4 linked regions of the Homo sapiens genome follow. The protein of the gene in region 2 purifies or fractionates together with the protein of the main gene of each other region. This does not show direct contact. Each region holds a gene or a part of one and is shown on either strand. Other genes may lie near its edges.

What was found.
Region 1: the proteins of SNAI1 (region 2) and HMG20A purify together in Homo sapiens (affinity purification with mass spectrometry; 4 studies listed by BioGRID and IntAct, with this or other methods). This does not show direct contact.
Region 3: the proteins of SNAI1 (region 2) and SIRT2 purify together in Homo sapiens (affinity purification with mass spectrometry; 3 studies listed by BioGRID and IntAct, with this or other methods). This does not show direct contact.
Region 4: the proteins of SNAI1 (region 2) and FBXL8 purify together in Homo sapiens (affinity purification with mass spectrometry; 3 studies listed by BioGRID and IntAct, with this or other methods). This does not show direct contact.

The regions. Positions count from the first base shown.
Region 1 is NC_000015.10:77,472,859-77,479,900, reverse strand, and holds part of HMG20A (high mobility group protein 20A), read right to left. Parts: intron 2,347-7,042; coding exon 2,271-2,346; intron 1,607-2,270; coding exon 1,391-1,606; intron 723-1,390; coding exon 586-722; 3' UTR 580-585; exon of another isoform or gene 1-579. UniProt on the Homo sapiens protein: Plays a role in neuronal differentiation as chromatin-associated protein. Acts as inhibitor of HMG20B. Overcomes the repressive effects of the neuronal silencer REST and induces the activation of neuronal-specific genes.
Region 2 is NC_000020.11:49,985,969-49,989,417, reverse strand, and holds the end of SNAI1 (zinc finger protein SNAI1), read right to left. Parts: intron 1,547-3,449; coding exon 1,362-1,546; 3' UTR 532-1,361; downstream 1-531. UniProt on the Homo sapiens protein: Involved in induction of the epithelial to mesenchymal transition (EMT), formation and maintenance of embryonic mesoderm, growth arrest, survival and cell migration.
Region 3 is NC_000019.10:38,878,018-38,882,618, reverse strand, and holds the end of SIRT2 (NAD-dependent protein deacetylase sirtuin-2), read left to right. Parts: intron 1-1,127; coding exon 1,128-1,187; intron 1,188-1,463; coding exon 1,464-1,519; intron 1,520-1,721; coding exon 1,722-1,798; intron 1,799-1,882; coding exon 1,883-1,934; intron 1,935-2,445; coding exon of another isoform or gene 2,446-2,478; exon of another isoform or gene 2,479-2,916; coding exon 2,917-2,987; intron 2,988-3,118; coding exon 3,119-3,185; intron 3,186-3,308; coding exon 3,309-3,464; 3' UTR 3,465-4,059; downstream 4,060-4,601. UniProt on the Homo sapiens protein: NAD-dependent protein deacetylase, which deacetylates internal lysines on histone and alpha-tubulin as well as many other proteins such as key transcription factors.
Region 4 is NC_000016.10:67,155,944-67,162,976, reverse strand, and holds the start of FBXL8 (F-box/LRR-repeat protein 8), read right to left. Parts: upstream 3,021-7,033; 5' UTR 2,921-3,020; intron 1,243-2,920; 5' UTR 1,192-1,242; coding exon 1,040-1,191; intron 130-1,039; coding exon 1-129. Other genes in the region: TRADD (tumor necrosis factor receptor type 1-associated DEATH domain protein), read left to right, coding at 6,317-6,467. UniProt on the Homo sapiens protein: Substrate-recognition component of the SCF (SKP1-CUL1-F-box protein)-type E3 ubiquitin ligase complex.

The sequences.
Region 1 (7,042 bases), on a different chromosome or scaffold from region 2:
AAAGCTTCCTACTTATGTAGGCTCACATACATACAATGTCTCACTGACTACTTCTAAATTATCATTAGTATTTTCCAGAGAAAAGGAAGATTAAAAATTAAGTTATATTTATTTTGTTCTGAGTGCTGTTTTGGGGATGATTTCTTCTAAGTTTCCCACTCACTTTTCAAAACCTTTTGGGAAACTAATGCCCAAGAATACAGCTAATAAGTGACAAAGCTAGAAATGAGGTCAAGCCACAAAAACCATGCTTTTCCCATTAAACCATTCTGAAGCAAGCATAAGAAAAAACTGTCTTGAGTCTGTTTTCTTTTATTTTTAGAGACAGGATCTCTCTGGACTTGAACTGCTGGGCTCAAGCAATCCTCCCACCTCAGCCTCCCAAGTAGCTGGGACTACAGTGATTCTCTTTTCTAATATTATTTACTACATTTAACAACCATGCAACAGGAATCTTAACCAAGTCTCCAACTTGTTCATCCAATGTAATCCCAGGGTTTTAGTAGTATTGATAAAGTCTGATGACATCTTATTTTTGATGATGTGCTGGCATATAAATATTTATCAGTGAGCACTCACCATTCCCTAACGATCGAGTCTGTTCACAACTTCTCGAACTGTAGCTATGAAGTTTTCATTGTCTTGGGGATTAGCTAAAATAATACTGTGCAGTCTGTTCATATATGAGTCAATGGTGTCCACTGTAGGTGTCTCTCCACTTCCTGAAGTGAGATAAGAAGAAAGTAAGAAAATCCTCCCTATTCAGTTGTACCATAAAACACAATTTCAAAGAAACAGTGATTCTAATGTGGTCTGCTCCACAGACATGCTTTTAATTTTAGAGGAGAGACTTTTAGATCTCAAAGAAATGAAATTAGTCCACATACTCTAAATAAACAGATGGGCTATATAATTGCTGTATAGTATATATGAGCAGCTGCATGTAACAGAAGGTTAGACTCGCTCAGCTTTCTGCTATGACTATCTTCAAAATGAAAGAGTATATAAGAAATACCAGTGTTCATTCTCCCTTCCTTCCCGTTAAAACAAAAACAACTAAAAAGCAAACAAACATACATAAGAAGAAACACTCTCAAGATTTACTACTCAGTTTCCAGTGTTCTGAATAGCAAATTAAGCTTAAAAGAGGGGAAAATAGATATTAAAATATAAATGGACAAAAATTTGAATGACCAGAGAGCCTGAAACATTGGACGATTTTAGCCAATACTGACATTCTATTATATCCAGAGAAGAAAAAATGTAGTTTAATTAATTTTCCTCTGGAGGAGATTTCAATCTCTCCACACCAGTACTAACATAAACAGCACCCCACTCCACACAACACACACACCCCTGTCACTGACAGTTCTCAGGCAGGAGGACTTACCAGGCAAGGGCATGCTGGCAAAGCTGCTGGTCAGCACCTGCCGCAGGGTCTCCAGGTGCTGCTGTAAGACTGTGTTGCGGCTCCGCTCCTGGATCACATCCACCTCCAGCTTCTCCACTGCTGTGCGCATGCTCTCCACGTGCTTTTGCAGGGCTGCATTCCTCTCCTCAAACTCCATGTTGGATTTGCGAAGCTGGCGGAGCTCTGCTTCCCGAGCTGAGGACATACATCCCACAGAACACATGCAGCACTAGAAGGAGTCTCTGAGGAGTCCCAATGACTCTTACAGGGAAGTTCTGCTTAGCTGCCTCTAATTTAGCTACCCCACCTCATCTCCCTATTCTCATTATGGCATTCCAGATAGCAATTTCAGCAATGAAACGCCTGACTCCCCAGAGCTATTTTAATTCTTAAAGCTAGTCACATTCCATACATAAGATTGCAACAAACAGTTTCAATTCCCAGTATTTTTTTGTTTGTTAGTTTTTGCTTTTTAAATTGTACAATCAGAAGCCTGAGGGGTTTTGCAGGGGGATCCTGGGAGACTGGCCAAGCACAGCTGTAGGTACCCATCTTTACCACAATGGGATCAGACTTGCTCTTACTTATTTTATATTTTGGACTCCCATGTAAGTTTTTATTTGTGCAAGGGGTTCCAGGCTAAGAGTTTGAAGACAAGTGAATTTGTGATTTGCATTTATTTCCTTTCATCCAGAGACCAAAGAAGCTTTGACAACAATGCCCTAGCTTTCCTTCACTGGTCTTTGAGTAGTCCTAAGGAGGGATAACACTACCATTGCTTTTGAGCAATGAATTTCTTCTGAGAACTAAGTCCCCTGTCAAAAATCTGAGAAACACAAAAAGAAACTTCAGTAATCACCTTTGCTATGGTTCAAGAATTCCTCTGTAAATATAGGGATGTCAAAAACAGACCGTTCCTTTACCTCTGTTTCTTTCTGTGAATCAAGAGGAACAAAACAGTTAATTCTTAATAGAAGATAAATTAAATAATAGTGCCTGAAGACAATGATCATGTCTTCTTTAAAGAAAGAATAGGGTGAGCAGGAATCAGTCCAGGTGAGTCTGTGAGGGAAATGTATTCATCTTTTCATTGGAATCCAACTTTCACAGAGCTTAAGCAGGTAAAGTATTCACTTCTCTCAGGTATACAACTACTGTGCAATTAGAAACCTTAAAACAAAGTTACGTAAATTTCCCTAATGGAGAATTTGAAGCCATTTCTTAGCCTTGTGTTTTGAATAGTCAACAGTATACAGTTGTGAAAGTGATTGCAGTGGGAATTGAGAAAGAGTAGTTTTTTTTCAGTCACTTTTGTTGGTTATGCATGTAAAATGCTCCCTGAGATAAGATTATGCAATATAAATTTGCAGAGTGGACAATAAGAATTTTAAGCAGAAATGTAACTGCTATGAGCAATAATTATGATATTCCATTGGTACTTCTATTTACTTAAGAGAGGCAGCCTATCTTTGGGGTCTTTTAGATTTTCTTTAGACACAGGAAAAATAAACAAACAAACACATGAGACCGAGAAATCAGAAATAACCAGGCTCTAAAAATTAGAAAGCAAACGATTATGTGAGATACAAAAGAATAACAAAGCCTAAAATTAATTCACCAATAAGCCATTAAAAATAAAAAAGCCTCACAAGATCATTGCAAAATATATTCCACAATGATCTTTAAGAATAAAGTCAATAACTCAAGATGCTTTGGCTGTCGTTTCTAAAATGAATTTGAAGTTGAAAGCATTGTGAATATTAATTTTAAGTGTGTTGGCATAATGTTCAAAATTTTCCATAACAAAGGTGGTAAAATGGCAGGAAGTGAGAAATGAAGAAACTGCTAGTGAAATCTTAAGATCCCAGGACCTTTATAACATGAAAAACATGCAAACATAATACCTAGATTTCATTCCTATAAACAATTGTTTAAAGCTAGACAGAATGTATCTTTCCTACTCTTGTCACCACTAGCTTTTTTTTTTTTTTTTTTTTTTTTTTCTGAGAGGGAGTCCCTCTCTGTTGCCCAGGGTGGAGTACAGTGGCACGATCTCAGCTCACTGCAACCTCTGTCTCCCAGGTTCAAGCAATTCTCCTGCCTCAGCCTCCCAAGTCACTGGGATTACAGGTGCCCACCACCATGCCTGGCTAATTTTCTGTATTTTTTTAGTAGAGACGGGGTTTCGCCATGTTGGCCAGGCTGGTCTTGAACTCCTGACCTCAGGTGATCCACCTGCCTTGGCCTCCCAAAGTGCTGGGATTACAGGCTTGAGCCACCGTGCCCAGCCTCCACTAGTTTTTTAAATCTTTGAACACAAAAATGACTTGGTGCCCAGTAGAAAAGCTAAGCAGTTCACAGCTTAAGAGGGAAATCTGACACCCGAGCTCCTGTATTCATAACGGTGGCCGCCTAGTAAGGGGGCTGGGCTGTGTGAACCACCTGCCAATGGCAGCTGAGCAAGAAAGACACTGAAAAGCTATGTAATTTCAGAGCACTTAATTTCTACTTGTATTTTTCTTCCTAACAAAAGAAAGCAAAGTTTCCCAGAATAATTTGAAAATGAACAACAAAATTATCAATCGAAAGTCCCAAGTTTCAACATGCAAAGCTCTACCTCGAGCCAGTTCCTAGGGGATTTCAATGGAAACTAATGTATGAACAAGAAAGGCTGGTTCCAGAAGGAATCTTAGCCATATTTCGCAGTGGCTTTCTCTCAAATTTGCTGGCTTCCCATATGCTTTAACTGTTACTGGGCTGCTGCAGGAAAACAAAACTTAATGACACACAATCCCAACATGCACAAGGCATAACAGATATAAACATAAGTCCACAGATGACAGCATAAAGACTTAGGACATTATCATCCTATCTTATTCAATCTCCAACTTAACTGCAGTTACATGAGATCAGTTACCTAAGCTATACGTCTCAATATCTGCCAGTTAGATGGGTAAAGTGGAGACGCTTGGCTCCCATTACCATGGTACAAAGATCCCTCTCCTCCAAAGTCTTGACTCTCCTCAGACTGGTAATCTTTTCTCTTCTTTGCCAGAGCAGTCCAAATCAAGCTAATTATGTAAGGGCAGAGGACAGCACCACATAGGTGCATTAACACACTGCCCCTTGGTACAGATTCTCAGAGCACAAAATAAGAAACATTAAAGCAATTCAATGAAACTGTTCAGTCTCTGAAAGGTAACAGAGAAATTCTACTTAATGGAAGAGTGGTAATAAAAACCATCAGCGCTCTTCCATTACTGAGCACATTTCACGGCATGGAGAGGATCCTTCTGGGGGCTTGGGTGTACTTAAGCTGCTCCAAGGATAGCTCAAAGGATTAAAATCATAAGGATCTGATTACCCTTTCACTGAAAGGGTCTAATTTGTTCAAGCTGAGTGTCATTCTGTCATTTCTCATAAATTAAAGGAGAAACAAAATTATTGTTTCTATCTTAGTTTTCACATGAGATATAGACACTTTCTTGAGAGTAATACTCGCTAACTCTTGGGTCTAGTGGGCTGGCTTTCGATTTGAGAGGAGCAAGAATATTCTTCACTTTGGTTTCCATTCTATATATTGAGTGGAGGTTAAGAGAAAAGAGGCCCTTTTGAACTGAACCTATTTTGCTGTGATCTAGGCTCAGGGCCAGAATTTCAAAGAGTGTGATATGTGCTTCTCTCAAGAGACTTTTACTTTGGGAAATGCTCTTAACATTGTGTACCAGCCTGAAGTGCCCCACTGCTATGCAGAATGGCTTTCAGGTCAGCATTTCTTTAGCTCTAATATGCCCTCTCCAGTACCTGCCTTGGTAACAATGACTTAGGGATCCAAGTTTCATTTAGGAATACAATAGGTTTCTTTACTATACACAAACCAAATAGTTTACTTAACTGGCAACACATTTTGCTGACACCTTGGGCAACGAGGCCCATTTTTACTTTCAACGCTGTAATTTATGCTATGTAGCATGGCACTGTGCTGTCAAGAATGTTAGACTATGACACAGAAGGCCTGGGTTTCTGTCACAATTCTGCCTCTAATTTAATTCAGTAAGTGATTCTGGGTAAATTCTTTCCATTCTATATACTGTCTTAGGCAAGTCACTTTCCTCACTGGCAAAATGAGGTGGTCAGTTGAGAGGATCACTGAGTCTCAGTGTTTTACTCCTCATAGGATAAGTAAAGGGAAATAAGTATGTATTTAGGATCTATGGTCTTTAGACACTGCAAGATATTTGCTCTTTTATTAAAAACTTACTCATACCTCTGCTCAAGCCATTTTACCCACCCTGAGATGCCCACAAAACCTAGGTCATTTTTAAGTCCTGATTCAATTACTCCTTTCCATGGGCTCCTTCTGCGGCTGCTTTTCACCCATAGTGCTATTTTTCTGAACTTCTATTATACTAAGAAGTTATATGTAAGAAAATTACTGGGTAACAGTGTTTAAAAACAGTTTTAAAACTTTCAAATCAGTTCTTTTATACTGCAATTGTTCTAAAATTATCTAATTTAGGAAACATATTATTCAGTGAAAAATAAAAATGGATGAAGTAAGGGACATTAATTGGGTCAACACGCTTACTAAAGGAGCTTTATCCTGCTGTGGCCATACCAACACATGGATTTACAGAACCTACTGTATAACCTTTTAAGAAACAACTGCTGGCTCTCCATCTACTCACTCCTTTTTTTTGTTTGGTTTAACATGTGTCTAATCCTGTAACAGGGAAATACAGAGACTCACTTCTTTTTGCAAATCACAGAAATTACAGAAATTCATATCACACTAATGTATCTGAATAAACACCTTCACTTCTCAAATAATCAGCAGCAGGTTCTATGATACAGACTAAATCTACATCTTTTCTGACTGCAACTATCAAGTTTACTGAAGACAAAAATGCTACATATAGTTTGGCCAGCAAAATTCATAGTGATGAAATGAGTCAGATGACTGACACCTATTCAGATGACTGACTAGAAAATGTGAGATCTAATGTTTCAGGTTACTGTCCAAATTCTCTTTGGTAACTGTTAAGGATAGAGAAGCTATAAAATAGAGAAAAAAAGAAGCACAGGAATTTCATGATATTGATAGCTGGGCACACAGGCAAAGAAAGAGAGAAGTAATTATACAAATGTCTGCTAATATGAAAAGTTTACAATATTATTATGATTTAAAATACAAAGAATACATACAAAGTTTCTCCAGCAAAACAACATAACATTTCATCCTAATTAGAGCATAGAATGTCATATATAATTACATTTATATAGGATTTATCTGAAGAATAAAATGTAAATATTTACTATGCTTCTCACTTTATAATTCATAGATGGTAATAACGTCTATTTGACCTGTGAATCTGAATCTTTTCTCTATGTTTTAAGGTAACCAACATTTCCTTGATTTAGTAAAAAACCAAACACATGTAAAAGAGTACATCAGAAAATTCTTTTTGTTCAAATTCTCAGTTATTTCAGGTCAACTTTGAATAGATTCCATAAAATAATCATTTGTGGAATACCTTCTCAAGGCAAAGGTATCATGATAGGTGGTATGGGGTTGGATATAAAGATGGAAACTAGACTGTGTATGTCCACAAAGACATTACAACCAAAGAG
Region 2 (3,449 bases):
GCATCAAAGGCCATTTGGTACCCAGCAGCAAGACGGAGGTGTGGGACTGACAAGGAGGCCCAAGGGGGCCTGGAGCCCTTGGAAACAGGAAGGACATCCTCTGTCTCCTTGGTCGCATTCCACTCGCATCTGGGGGAAGCGGACAATCCCACCCCAAAAGACCTGCAGTGCTGGGGCAGAGCTTTGCAGCCTGTCTAGTTGATAAGACCCAGGAAGCCAGCTTTGCACTCCGTGGGCCAGATCAACTTCAAAATTCAAGAACGAGAAAGTAAAAAGCCACAGTGTATAGTGAAGAGCTCGTATGGATGCCGCTGGCTCACCCAAACAGCAGCAGACAGGACACCCAGGCCAACGGGAAAACCCAGTCTCATAAGGTCCCTGACAGTGACACCCAGGACTCCAAAGCCCTATGATGTTTCCAAGGACAAGATTTAAGGCTGTGTCAGAAATATCTAAGCTTCAGGAATTCCTGTCCCCTCCTCCCTTACCAAAGACCTTTCAAAATACCCACTCCTCTATGACACCAAAGACTTTTTAATATATAAATTAACTGCTTTATTGAATATCAATAAACTGTACATATAACTATACAAAACGTTTCCTTGATACAAAATGTTTGAAATATAAATACCAGTGTACCTTTAAAAATGTAAACATCTTCCTCCCAGGCCCACCTGTCGGGCCCCCAGAATAGTTCTGGGAGACACATCGGTCAGACCAGAGCACCCCACTTGGGCCCCCGACAAGTGACAGCCATTACTCACAGTCCCTTTTCAGACATTGTTAAATTGCCCGGGAAACAGGTGCCACCCCACCAAACAGGAGGCTGAAATAGCTGCCTGGGCTCGGGGCATCTCAGACTCTAGTCTGCCACCGCCTCCGCAGGCCCTGGGGCTGCACCTGGGGGTGGATTATTGCATAGTTAGTCACACCTCGTGGAGGGTGGCCTGAGGGTTCCTTGTGGGGGGGTGTGTGTGAGGGGAGTGGGGTCCCCTGAGTGGGGTGGGAGCTTCCCAGTGAGTCTGTCAGCCTTTGTCCTGTAGCTCAAAGCAGCTGTATCCAAACAGCTCTGGATACAAAAACCCACGCAGACAGGCCAGCTCAGGAATCCCCCAGGGCTGGGGGCCAGCTGCCCTCCCTCCACAGAAATGGCCATGGGAAGGCCTCTTCCAGAGCCCAGGCAGAGGACACAGAACCAGAAAATGGTCTTCATCAAAGTCCTGTGGGGCTGATGTGGCCAGAAGTGGGGCACTCAGGAGGGAATTCCATGGCAGTGAGAAGGATGTGGGGTCCTTCCTGCTGGAGCTGGGGAAGGCTGTCAGGCAGGGGCAGGTATGGAGAGGAAGAGGGAGCCTCGAGGGTCAGCGGGGACATCCTGAGCAGCCGGACTCTTGGTGCTTGTGGAGCAGGGACATTCGGGAGAAGGTCCGAGCACACGCCTGGCACTGGTACTTCTTGACATCTGAGTGGGTCTGGAGGTGGGCCCGCAGGTTGGAGCGGTCAGCGAAGGCACGGCTGCAGTGGGGACAGGAGAAGGGCTTCTCGCCTGGGGAGAGAACGCCAGAAAGGCCGAGTGAGCCGTGGGACAACGGCTGGCAGTGATGGGAATCCCTCCCCGCATACCCCAAACCCTGAAAGAATCCCATGATCCCAGGAAAGCCAGGCCTCCGTCAAACACACAGCCAGGGTCCAAAGGCCGGGACCTGACGGAGCTCTGCTGCTTCCCACTGTGCAACTCTGAGCAAGTTGTCTGGCTTCTCTGAGCCTCCATTTTCCCACCTGTAAAATGGGGCTATTCACCCCCCACTCATAGGGGTTGATAAGTGACAGAAGGTAGGGTACTCATCCACATCCCGCAGGGACGTGCGAAGTGGTCAACAATGACTCAACACCTTTACTGATTCATCCTACTGTCACTTGATCCTACTGTGGTCTCATTTCAGAGACAGTGAAACTGAGGCCCAGAAGTAGCATGTTCAGGTTCCCCTGGCAGGACCCCAAAGCCTCTGATTTCACCTACTGCCCTTACTGCCTTCAGTCAAGGGAGGACGTGACTGGTGTCCTTACCATCAGTCCTGGAGTCATTCCTTGATTTACTCTGTTGGGGGCCAAAGCCAGAGTCAGCCTTAAGAGGCTTCCCCACCCCCACCTCCAAGCTGGTTAGGCCACTCCTGGGGCCCGGCCAGCAGCCTGCTTTCCTCACCACCCCACCTCCTGCGCTGTAATCCCAAATCTCCTTGTCTGTTCTCCAATCAGGCTGAGTCCCATAAGGGCAAGGGCCTCCTTTGAGTCCCTTCTGAGCCCCAGCCCAGGGCCTGGGCCCCTTTCTATCACCCAAGAGGCTACGGAAACCTGTGGCCCTGACACACCATCTGCCTGGCCAAGGCTGTGTTGGGAAAAGTCTTGCACATGGAGCTGGGTGCCCAGTAAATCCTCAACAAGCCCTTAGAGAATAAATAAGTCTGTTTTAAAAATTAAAGAGGCCTCAGAGGAGTCTGCCCCCTCACTCATGCCTCATAACAATCCCTGCTCCAACCAAAAAGCTATATAGTTCCAAAAACACCAATAATGTTGATTTGTTTTTTTCTGGGGGATGCAGCATTTTCCAAATAAAAGGTCATAACAGTAACCCATTAAACAAAAATCTATTGAGGCTGGGTGTGGTGGCTCACGCTTGTAATCCCATCACTCTGGGAGGCCGAGTGAGGCAGGATTGCTTGAAGCCAGGAGTTTGAGACAAGCCTAGGCGATAAAGCAAGACCCTGTCTATAATTTTTTTTTTAATCTACTGAGCTCCTACTAAGTGCTAGACACTATTCCATAATACTGAATAGTCTTTTTAAAAAACATGCAATTCTCCAATCCCCTCACGCCCAGTCTGATATGCCCGCAAGGTCAGGGCCCGCCTGTGAAATCCCAGCGCTGGATGGAATTTAAGAGCTGAGAGTGAATTCATTCCATCACCTCCTGGGTGCCTAGGGTGCCACACTGAGCTACCAGGGTAGGAGAGAGTCCAGAGGATGGCTCCAATGGGACCCATGCATTCAATAGGGACTTATGGAGCGCCTGAGAGCTGGACTCAGTCTCATGGGGCAGAAATGGAAACTCGCCACTCCAAAGGGTGGGGGACATAGAGGATTGGGGGAGGGGTGCCTGAGCACTACTCCACTCTGCCATTACTCAGCAGCCTCCACACGCCACGCCTGAAGGGTTTGTTGATTGCATTCTAAGTCTTCATGTGAATGAGAAGGGTAAGTTCACCCTTGTGAACTAAGGGCTGACTCTGGAGATCTGGAAAAGGGGCTGGAGTCCATTTGTAAGACCAGAGTTAGGACAGCACCTCCCTTCCCTTCCCAGGGCTGTTGGTGAAGTCCTGAGCACTACCCTCCTGTACAGTAAGTGCCCAAAGTGTGATGAGACCTGAACCCAAACAAAAGGGGAAGGAGACA
Region 3 (4,601 bases), on a different chromosome or scaffold from region 2:
TGTCACCCAGGCTGGAGTGCAGTGGTGCAATCTCGGCTCACTGCAACCTCCGCCTCCCGGGTTCAAGCAATTCTCCCTGCCTCGGCCTCCCAAGTAGCTGGGATTACAGGCACGTGCTACAACCCCTGGCTAATTTTTATATTTTTAGTAGAGACGGGGTTTCACCACGTTGGCCAGGCTGGTCTCAAACTCCTGACCTCAAACGATCCACTCGCCTCAGCCTCCCAAAGTGCTGGGATTACAGGCGTGAGCCACCACACCCGGCCAGAAATGCTTTCAAGCTTCCTAAATCAATAAGAAATAAGGCCAGGCACAGTGGCTCATGCCTGTAATCCCAACACTTTTGGACGTCGAGGTGGGTGGATCACTTGAGCCCAGGAGTTTGAGAACAGCCTGGGCAACATAGGGAGATCCCATCTCTAAAAAAAATAAAATGTAGCCAGGTGCGATGGTGGATGCCTGTGAGCCCAGCTACTCGGGAGGCTAAGGCAGGAGGATCACTTGAGCCTGGGAAGTCGGTGGTGCAGTAAGCTATGATCACACCACTGCACTCAACCATGATTGCACCACCACACTCCAGCCTGGGCAACAGAGTGAGAACCTGTCTCAAAAAAACAAACAAACCAATAAGGCCGGGCGCAGTGGCTCACACCTGTAATTGCAGCTCTTTGAGAAGCCAAAGTGGGCAGATTTGCTTGAGCCCAGGAGTTTGAGACCAGCCTGGGCAACATGGCGAAACCCTGTCTCTACAAAAAATACAAAATTTAGCCGGGCGTGCTGGCATGCACCTGTAATCCCAGCTACTCAGGAGGCTGAGGCAGGAGGATCACTTGAAGCTGGGAGGTTGAGGCTACAGTAAGCCATGATCGTGCCACTGCATTCCAGCCCGGGCAACAGAGTGAGACCTTATCTCAAAAAAAAAAAGAAAGAAAAAAACAAAAAAAATGCAACAACAAGAAGAGAGGTCTTTTCTGAGCAGAGTGGACACCTCAGGAGACACCCATCACACTCCAAGTGATGGAGGTGTGTTCATGTTAACAGTGGAAGAGGGGTGGGGGTGCTGCACCTCCAGACTCCGGCCCAGATCCTCTTACTGCCTTCTCTTTCTTCCCCTTCCCCATACCCAGAGAAGATCTTCTCTGAGGTGACGCCCAAGTGTGAAGACTGTCAGAGCCTGGTGAAGCCTGGTGAGCCTCTGGCCAGGGACCTGCCCAGGTGGATTTGGGTGGGGGTCCCCTCCTCCCCCTGACCCCCTCCCAAAGGCCACACCCGCACACATCTGGCCACCTCTGTCTCTCTGAACAGTGCCCCAGATCCATCCTGGGGAGAATGGGGTCTGTGCCCCTGGCCGGTCCCCACTGCTCCCAACTCCCACTGTGGCCTCCGGGTCTGCCATTGCTCCCACCTGTCCTCTCTGCCTCCCCATGTCACTGTCTCTGTCCGTCCATCTGTCTCCACCTCAGATATCGTCTTTTTTGGTGAGAGCCTCCCAGCGCGTTTCTTCTCCTGTATGCAGTCAGTAAGTGGCCCCCCAGCCTCCCCGCATCCCCAACCGCCGCCTCCACCTGTGCTGGGCCCCATGGGGGCAGCCTGGGCCCTGCCTCAGGAAAGGTCACCTCCCCAGCTATGGGGGGCGGCAGGGAGGTTTGCTGCTGGGGGCGGGGGAGGGAGCGGTGGCGCAGCCTGGGCGGAGGCTCCCAAGCTCACGCCCCTCCCCGCAGGACTTCCTGAAGGTGGACCTCCTCCTGGTCATGGGTACCTCCTTGCAGGTGCAGCCCTTTGCCTCCCTCATCAGCAAGTAGGTTGGGGGCTGTGGCTGGGAGGACGGCTGGGCACCCAGGGCCAGGACAGACCCTGACCCCTTAGCTCCCCCTCCCCACAGGGCACCCCTCTCCACCCCTCGCCTGCTCATCAACAAGGAGAAAGCTGGCCAGGTAAGAGCCCTTCTTCAAGCCCCCGTCGTCACAGGCTCCCCCTTCCCTCTCACCCTTTTCCTCAGAGGGAACCCCCACTGTGGAACCCCAGCACTTTGCATTCCTCAGCTCAGAACCTGGGGCTCTAGAATCCAGAGGGGTCGGGTTCCAGGCCTCTGGGACATTCACTGCCCTTTTGAGCAAGTGATAGAATTCCAACTCAAACCAGCTGAAGCCAGATAGGAAGGCCGGGCTTCCAGGGACTGAGGAGGTGGGAGGGGGTGCAGGGGTCAGGAGAGACAGTGCGGGGGGCGGGGTTGGGTCCACGCTCTGGGTCTCTCAGGTCTGTTTTTCCTGGGCAGCCTCACTCTAGGGCAGGTGCTCCCTCCTAGGTGTTCCCCTCAGGGGAAGTAGGCAGGGTCACCGGGCAAGCAGCGCACGCTGTGGGCAGACACTGTCCCAAGTCTTAGCCTGCGTGAACTCACTGGCGCCACAACCCCATCGCGGTTTTGTGATCACCCCTATTCTACAGGAAACTAAGACACAGAGAGGACAAGTCACTTGACCAAAGTCACTGAGCTGGCTGGGCGCAATGGCTCACGCCTGTAATTCCAGCACTTTGGGAGGCCGAGGCGGGTGGATCACCTGAGGTCAGGAGTTCGAGACCAGCCTGACCAACATGGTGAAACCCCGTCTCTACTAATAATACAAAATTAGCCGGGCATGGTGCTGGGCACCTGTCATCCAGGCTACTCGGGAGGTTGAGGCGGGAGAATCACTTGAACCCAGGAGGTGGAGGTTGCAGTGAGCCGAGATCACATCATTGCACTCCAGCCTGGGCAACAAGAGTGAAACTTTGTCTCAAAAAAAACCAAAAAAACAACAACAAAAAAAAAACAAAGTCACAGAGCTAGGATACAAACCCAGGCCACCTGGCTCCAGGGTCTGTGCTCTTAGCTCTCCCTTCCCTGCTCCTGCCCCTGACCCACCCCCTCCCTGACAGTCGGACCCTTTCCTGGGGATGATTATGGGCCTCGGAGGAGGCATGGACTTTGACTCCAAGAAGGCCTACAGGTGAGGCCCCGCCGGGGGTTGGGGCAGCCTGGAAGGGACAGGGTGAGGTGGGAGCGGGGGCACGAAGGCAGATGAGAGGAGCAGGCAGGGGCGAGCCCGCCTGGGAACTCTGATCTCCTGCTGCACCGCAGGGACGTGGCCTGGCTGGGTGAATGCGACCAGGGCTGCCTGGCCCTTGCTGAGCTCCTTGGATGGAAGGTGAGGAGCTGAGCAACCCCAGCCTGTCCTGAGCCCCATCCCTGGACCCTCTCCCCACCCCATGGGTCCTCTGACCCCATGATGCACAGTGACCTTTGACTTCTGTGACCTTTGCTCCTGCAGAAGGAGCTGGAGGACCTTGTCCGGAGGGAGCACGCCAGCATAGATGCCCAGTCGGGGGCGGGGGTCCCCAACCCCAGCACTTCAGCTTCCCCCAAGAAGTCCCCGCCACCTGCCAAGGACGAGGCCAGGACAACAGAGAGGGAGAAACCCCAGTGACAGCTGCATCTCCCAGGCGGGATGCCGAGCTCCTCAGGGACAGCTGAGCCCCAACCGGGCCTGGCCCCCTCTTAACCAGCAGTTCTTGTCTGGGGAGCTCAGAACATCCCCCAATCTCTTACAGCTCCCTCCCCAAAACTGGGGTCCCAGCAACCCTGGCCCCCAACCCCAGCAAATCTCTAACACCTCCTAGAGGCCAAGGCTTAAACAGGCATCTCTACCAGCCCCACTGTCTCTAACCACTCCTGGGCTAAGGAGTAACCTCCCTCATCTCTAACTGCCCCCACGGGGCCAGGGCTACCCCAGAACTTTTAACTCTTCCAGGACAGGGAGCTTCGGGCCCCCACTCTGTCTCCTGCCCCCGGGGGCCTGTGGCTAAGTAAACCATACCTAACCTACCCCAGTGTGGGTGTGGGCCTCTGAATATAACCCACACCCAGCGTAGGGGGAGTCTGAGCCGGGAGGGCTCCCGAGTCTCTGCCTTCAGCTCCCAAAGTGGGTGGTGGGCCCCCTTCACGTGGGACCCACTTCCCATGCTGGATGGGCAGAAGACATTGCTTATTGGAGACAAATTAAAAACAAAAACAACTAACAATCCGGTCTGGCCTCCTGTTTCTTTCTGTGGGCACCCAGGGAAATCTCTGAAGGGAGGGGGTTAGATCTTGGGCCACTAAGGAACCAGAAAGTCTCCGGGATCCAGAGTGAGGGGTAACAAGAGGGTCCTCACGGGGGCCCTCGTGGCTCTGACCCCTGGACTCCCAGCCTGCCAGTGTCCCTTCCTCTAAGCCCCGTCACTAAAGGCCTGAGGCCCCAGAAAGAGGGAGGAAAGTTGACTTCAGATACCCCAGCCCCGCCTCTTCCCCCTGCCTGCTCAGCTTCCTCTCTCCACTTCCTGCTACTGCAGGCCTCTCCTCCGAGAACAGGTAGGGCCCCCAGGAACCGAGCATCTGGCATCTTCAGCCCCTGCTGCCTCCCTTTGGTATGAGGCAGCTGCCCTGACCCACCCCTGCCACGCACTGCCCACAGCCTCCTCTCCTGCCACGGTACACAAGCAGGCATCTGCTTCCCTCTCCCCTCCCCTCCCCTCCCTTCCTTCCTGCTCTTGCCTGGGCAGGGCACCTGCGCCTCCCTGCCCAC
Region 4 (7,033 bases), on a different chromosome or scaffold from region 2:
ATCAGCAGCTCGATGGCCGCCCGGCGGCTCGGCTTCCTCGATGGCTCAAATTCCAGCCGTAGGTTGTGAATGTGGTCGAGGCAGGCGGACAGATAAGGTGGCAGCATGCCTTCCAGCTCACATTCGCAACTTGGGTTAGAGCCGTGCAGAAAAGGCCTCAGCTGAGTCCCTGCGACCAGCGGAGAAGCCTCTACCCACCCCTTAGCTGGGGTTCCAGCTGCCATCCCATTTCCTGCCTCCCTCCCCACGTCTCTGTTCAGACCACGACTGTTGCCCCAAAGGAGGGAACTCGCATCCTATCCTTTTAGAAGATTTCAGTGGCGTCTGCCACAGGATGAAACCTGGACATGGAGAGCCAATGATATTTTAGGAACTGGGCTTTCTCAGCTGTCTCTAAGGAGTCTTGGCATGGCCTCCGGACTGCTAGGTTCGAATTCTGCCTCTGCCATTCCCTAGCTGAGTGACCCGTGGGAAGTGATTAAGTCTCTTTGCCTCAGTTTCCTATCTGGGCAATGGAGGTAATGATAATACCTATCTACCACACAAGGTTTTCATAAGGATTAAATTAGTTAATATATGTAAGGCACTTAAAAACAATGGTTGGTATATACTAGGCAGTCAATACGTCAGCAATTATTATTATTATTTTGAGATAAACTGTTACTCTGTCGCCAAGCTGGAGTGCAGTGGTGCCATCTCGGCTCACTGCAACCTTTGCCTCCCGGGTTCAAGCGATTCTTGTGCCTCAGCCTCCCGAGTAGCTAGAATTATAGGCGCCCACCACCATGCCCGGCTAGTTTTTGTATTTTAGTAGAGACGGGGTTTCAGCATGGTGGCCAGGCTGGTCTCAAACTCCTGACCTCAGGTGATCCACCCGCCTCGGCCTGCCAAAGTGCTGGGATTACAGGCATGAGCCACCACGCCCGGCCAGCAATTATTTTTTAATATGGGGGAGTCAACCTGAATATCTACCTAGCCCACGACTCCACGGAGAAGGTGAGTGGGCGGTGGGGAGAGGAGTGTGGAGGAGCAGGCTCACCTGATTTTTGTGTCGTGCCACACGGCGCTGCAGGTAGCAGCGGCGGCCCAGGCCCTGCAGACCCTGGCGGCGGCAGCACGGTCTCTCAGGGACAGGTGGCGGAAGATGAGTGCCAGCACCTCCTCTGGCAGTCCCTCTCCAGGCTCGGCCATGGCCCAGATCCGGCTGGGGTGGGAGGATCCGCCACTCCCAATAGCTCCGGCCTGGAGAGAGACGGACGTCTCTGAGGTCGGGAAGGCGCAAAGTGTTGCAGGAAGACCGAGCTTAGGTGTACAAATGCTTGTGGCCTGAGGAACTGAGGGCCTCTCAGACAGCGTGGGGCATCAGATAACCCCGAAACTTGTTCACAAAGCAGATTTCACCGCCTCACCTACTAAATCAGGCTCTCCGGAAAGGGTAAGGCCCAGGAATCTGCATTTCAACAAGCCCCTGTGACTCCACAGGTTCCACGTTGAGAACTCCCCTCCCACTTTTTTTTTTTTTTTTCTTTTTTTTTGAGACAGGGTCTCGCTCTTTACCCAGGCTGGAGTGCAGTGGCGCAATCACAACTCACTGCACCCTCAGTCTCCCGGGCTCAAGCAATCCTCCCACCTCAGCCTCCCGAGTAGCTGGGACTACAGGGGCACGCCACCACGCCTGGCTAATTTTTGTAATTTTGTTGCAGAGACGAGGTCTCGCTTTGTTGCCCAGACTGACCTCGAACTCCTAGGCTCAAGCGATCGGCCCGCCTGGGCCTCCCAAAGTGCTGGGATTACGGGCATGAGCCACCGCGCCCGGCCTGAGAAACCCCATCTTAACCCCGCCGGTTAGTAGAAAGTGACTACAGGGTTAATAAGGCGGGAGCGTTAATGTAGGCTTTTCTTTGTCAGGGACCATGAGCCAATCAGGAAGCGAGGCGTGGGCGGGGCAAAGCTGGATCCACCCCTGGAGGGGAGGCTCCTTCCCCGCCTCCGCCTCGCCGGGGAGATGTCCCGGGTGCTTCCTAAGACAGCCCCACTGGATGAAAAAAAACTTGGGTCTCTGGGACCTGACGGTTCTGGGGCCTGAGGGGCTCAAGATTTAAGTTCCGACCCCTGAGCAGCCCTGGCTCCCGCTGAGCAATTTGGGTTCGGCTGGAACTCCGCAGACCCACCCTGGAGCGCAGCCTTTAGAGGGGGATGGGTTACTGGAAAGTGTGCGTCCTCTTTGAAGTTGCCAATCCTGTTTGTTTTTGTTTTGTTTTGTTTTGAGACGGAATCTAGCTGTGTCGCCCAGGCTGGAGTGCAGTGGCGAGATCTCGGCTCACTGCAAACTCCGCCTCGCGGGTTCAAGCGATTCTTCTGCCTCAGCCTCCCGAGTAGCTGGGACTCCAGGCGCGCGCCACCTCGCCGGGCTAATTTTTGTATTTTTAGTAGAGACGGGGTTTCACCATATTGGCCAGGCTGGTCTCAAACTCCTGACCTCAGGTGATCCACCTGCCTCGGCCTTCCAAAGTGCTGGGATTACAGGCGTGAGCCACCGCGCCCGGCCGCCAATCTTGTTTTAAGGTTCTTAAAGGTTTGTGTACACAAGGCTTCACACTACTCGCCAGTTAATGTTCCCATATCTTCCGGGCTAACAGTTTCTCCCGGAATTTGTGCCACGTGTTTCCTGGGGCTTCAGATACGTTCGGCCGGGCTTGTACCTGGGACCCATGGGCACCCCGTTTTGAGTGCCCACTGGTAGCAGCGATCTTGAAGCCGGATCCCCAGGGGTACCAGAAAATTCTGGTCTCCAGGGGGCGCCCCCTTGATTTACCGAAGTCTGGCAGCTGTAGCTCTTACGAGCCCCCCGCCTCGTAAGAATCGCAAACCCCCAAAGTCGGGTCTTCCTGCCGTCTAACCTTGGGCGCTGGTGTCTTACCTGCTCGGCGGACCAGATGGGCTTTGCCCGGGGCAGGGGACTGGCAGCAGAGGACAGCGGACGGGAAGCAGCCACCGGGAGCCCGCGGGGCGGGACGCGCGGGCGGACGGGGCGGCTCGGGCTAGGGCACCGCCCCAGCGCCTCCGCGCACACCCGGAAGCGGCGGAGTAGAGCGGAGCCTGGCGGGCGTGGGAACCCAGGCCCCGCCGAGGCGGCCAGGTTAGTGCAGCAGGTGGGTGGGTGGGCTCCCCGGTGCGGGCGGGAGAGGAGGTGGATCTTGGCTCCGAAGCGTGGGCGCGGCGCAGATGTCACCGGCGGCTGCTCCAGCCAGCTGGTGGCGGCGGTCTACTGAGCTGTTCGAACACCGTGGGAGGCGGGGGACGGTACGGAATTTGGCCCCCGCAGGCTCCTCGTCCCTGCCAGCACTTTCGAGGTGCAGTAGGGCCCTGCAGGAGAGAGGGTGGGGGAGAAGGGGCTGGTTCTGAATACTTTCCTTGAGCGGAGACCCCCTTGCCCACCCCAGCCGATCGCACGTGCGAAACCCCAGCTTGAGGGTGGGCTAGTGGGAGCCTGGGAAGCTCCCCTCAAGCGCTCGGGAGCTGCGTAGCTGAGTAGGGGGTGTGCCCGGCGGGTCGCAAGGAGTCACAGGCTTTCAGTTCTGGGCCACGCCCACAGGCTGTCTCTGTCCACCCAGCCAGAGGTGGGGCTGCCCCCGGGACTGTTAGGTGTTCAGGGGGCACCGTGCGTGGCTCGTCCCTGGAAACAGGCGCAGAAGTTGTTAGGTCGGTACCTAAGCGCCCCACAGTCTCCGGCCACCAAACTTTCTCAGGACCCAGCCTGGAAGCCTCAGCCCCGCCCAAAAAGGGACGACTCCTGGTGGGTGGGGCGCGGGGCTTCCCAAGGAGGGGCTTCCGTGAAAGAACACGTAAGAAGAGCTGCCAGTCGGCGGATGCGAAACTAGGGCCCTGGCCTCTTTACCCTGTTAACTCGACCTCCAGCCTGGTTCACCTTCCCCATCTTCTAGTACTAGTGAGTGTGAGAAAGCATCCCCAGTCTCCAGGTTCCCAGTACTCCCCACCTCCCCCTCGACCCCCACAGACCTGATGGGCAGACAATGGTCCTGTTCGGTCCCCACTTCCACCCCTTGGGGTGGGACCATAACCAAGTCAAGCACTCTCAAGTCAAGGGGCCAGAAAGACATGAAAGAGGGAATGTTTCCAGGGGAAGTTCCCACTCTCTCCTACTCCCCAGGCCACTTTCGAAGGACTCCCCCCTTATCTCACCTCCGTGGCTGGCTCCCTATTATGGACCCACTTGTCACCTGCAGAGTTTCCTGTTTTTTCTTGTTTTGCTTTTAAAGAAAACAAATTTATTTTGCTCTTTTAATACAAAGAAAATATGTCTACTTCACATAAAGCAGAAAATATTGCTAAATACAAAGAAAATAAAAATCACCCACAATCCTTCCCCACCCCCACCTACCTTCCTTCATCCTGCCCAGAGATAAACAAAATGCAAACTTCCTGTTACTATCCAGACTGTGGTTTGGCGTAAGTACACAAGTATTAATGTTTTCTATGAAAAGATTAGAAGGCTGGGTGTGGTGCCTCACACCTGTAACCCAGCACTTTGGGAAGCTGAGGTGGGCAGATCGCTTGAGCCCAGGAGTTTGAGACCAGCCTGGGCAACATGGTGAAACTCCATCTCTACTAAAAATACAAAAACTAGCCAGGCATGGCGGCGTGTGCCTAAAGTCCCAGCTACTTGAAAGGTTGAGGTGAGAGGGTTGCTTGAGCTGGGAAGGTCAAGGCTGCAGTGAGCTGCGATAGTGCCACTGCACTCCAGCCTGGGTGACAGAGCAAGACCCTGTCTCAAAAACAAGACAATTGAAAAAACAAAGGTCGAGAGTAGTGCCTTACTCCTGTAATCGCAGCACTTTGGGAGGCCAGGGCAGGAGGACAGCTTCCTGTTCCTCATGTAAACAGATGGCAGCTGGGCCACCCCATCTGTCCTGCCCCATAGCTAACACTCAACACTCCTCTTAGCCCACCATATATAAACCCTGATGAGAGTACAGGAGTGTGACTGATGGGGCAGGAGGTAGGGCCTTGAGCCCATGATTATAGGAAAAGGGTGGGTAGGAAAAGGGTGAGGTGGGGAGAAAGAGGAGGCAGTTTTCTACTTGCTGTCTCACGGGGTAGTAACTGGGAGACCATTGAGCTGTAGGTCAGTGCAGTGGTTCCTTGGCTGGGAATTTTGCCCCCGCTGGTCCAGAGCTAGGTTTTTGTCAGAAGATGGAGGAAGGAGATACTATACTAGCACCAAGGGGCCCTGGCTTTTTCTGGACAGGGAAGGAATAGAGCAATTTGTGTTGGAAATGACTGGAGCCGAACTCCAAGGGCTTTATAACAAAAAGGAATTATTTAGCTCACATAACTGAAAAGTCCAGTGTGCAATGGCTTCAGGGACGGCTGGATCCAGGGGCCTAGTATGCTTAGGAATGCACTTCTCCATCTCTTGACTCTTTCTTTCTGTGTCAGCTTCATTCCCAGCCAGGCTCTTCCCAAGCAGTGCTAAAGGAGAGCTACCTTTTCCTTCCAGTTCAGCCCCAAGGGAAGGGAAAGTAGTGCCTCTTTCCTATTGGCTCAACCAGAGTCGCAGCGTTGATTCTCATGGGTCCAACTTAAGTCCTATACCCCGCCCTGAACTAATCACTGCAGAAATGTGAATGGAATATGCAGATTGGCCAGGTCTGGTACACAAGCCCGACCTGGAACTAGGGAGTGGGACACAGGCACATGGATTGAGAAGAGGGAGGAGGGAAGTCCCCAAAGGTAAGTCAGGCTTGGGGAGAGAATCTGGGTAGATGCAAACTACAGGTGCCCTTCGAAGTGAAGACAGGAGGTTTAGTCTTAGGCTGAGGTCCTCCAGAAATGCTGGGCTCAAGTCTACTCAGAAGGCAAGGCCAGGATATGGGTCTGGTTGGCTTTGGGGCATGGGCACCATCCAGAATGAAGATGTCTCTTGTCCGCATTGGTAAGAGAGACACACAGGCCTGAGAAGGAAGCAGAGAAGCCCCATTGCAGGATCTGCCTCTGCTCCCCCTCCACTGTGACCTTGGGCTCTTTCTCCAAGAAGGCAGTGGAGGGACAGTCCTCACTGCAAGCCTGGGGCGGGTGGGACTCTGTACAGAGCCAGGAGCTCAAGGGGCTTCCTGTGAGATGGTGAACTCCTGTCCCAAGTATGCCAACCAGTGGTGGGGACAACTGAACCATGTGGGACTTGAGGCTACTGTGGTGGGGACAGCTGAACCACGTGGGGCTGGGTAGTTGTCTCCAGGGTGGAGGGAGGGGGGATGAACTGGATACCTGACTGTCTGCATCTCCAGGAGGTGAGATGGCAGCTGGGCAAAATGGGCACGAAGAGTGGGTGGGCAGCGCATACCTGTTTGTGGAGTCCTCGCTGGACAAGGTGGTCCTGTCGGATGCCTACGCGCACCCCCAGCAGAAGGTGGCAGTGTACAGGGCTCTGCAGGCTGCCTTGGCAGGTGCGTGGATGGGCGGGCATGTGGAGAGGAAGGGGTGGCCTGGAGCATTTTGTGGGTGGGCCTGGGTTTAGCCACCTTTAAGAAGAAGATTTGGGGTGGGAGGAGCAAGACGGAGGACCCCTGGCTGTGCAGACTCTCTTCTTTGCTTGTGGCATGACCTTGAGGATAGGCGTGTGTTCTCGAGTCTGTGTATGATTTACCAATTTGTGCACTAACGTCCTTTGCTCCATCCCCGCCCCCCTCCACCAGCCGGCTCACTCCTTTCTACTAATTGTGGATGTCTCTCTCCTCTTTTCCTCTCTTACTGCAGCACTCCTTGCTCAAGACCCCTCCCCAGTACCTACCCTTCCAGGCCCCCCTTTCCCATCTCAGGGCAGAGGCCACAGGAGGCTGAAGCGGGTTGGGGGATCTGTTCGTGGCCTCAGAGCGGCGAGAGCCCCTCTTCTTCCCGAGCAGTGGGAGTCGCGCTTGGTGGAGGCCGAAGACCTGAGACCTCTCGCCCTCCTCTGCCCTGCTGGCCGCCTACCCAGACGGCTTGTTTGCCCAGGGCACACGCCCCCTTTTCT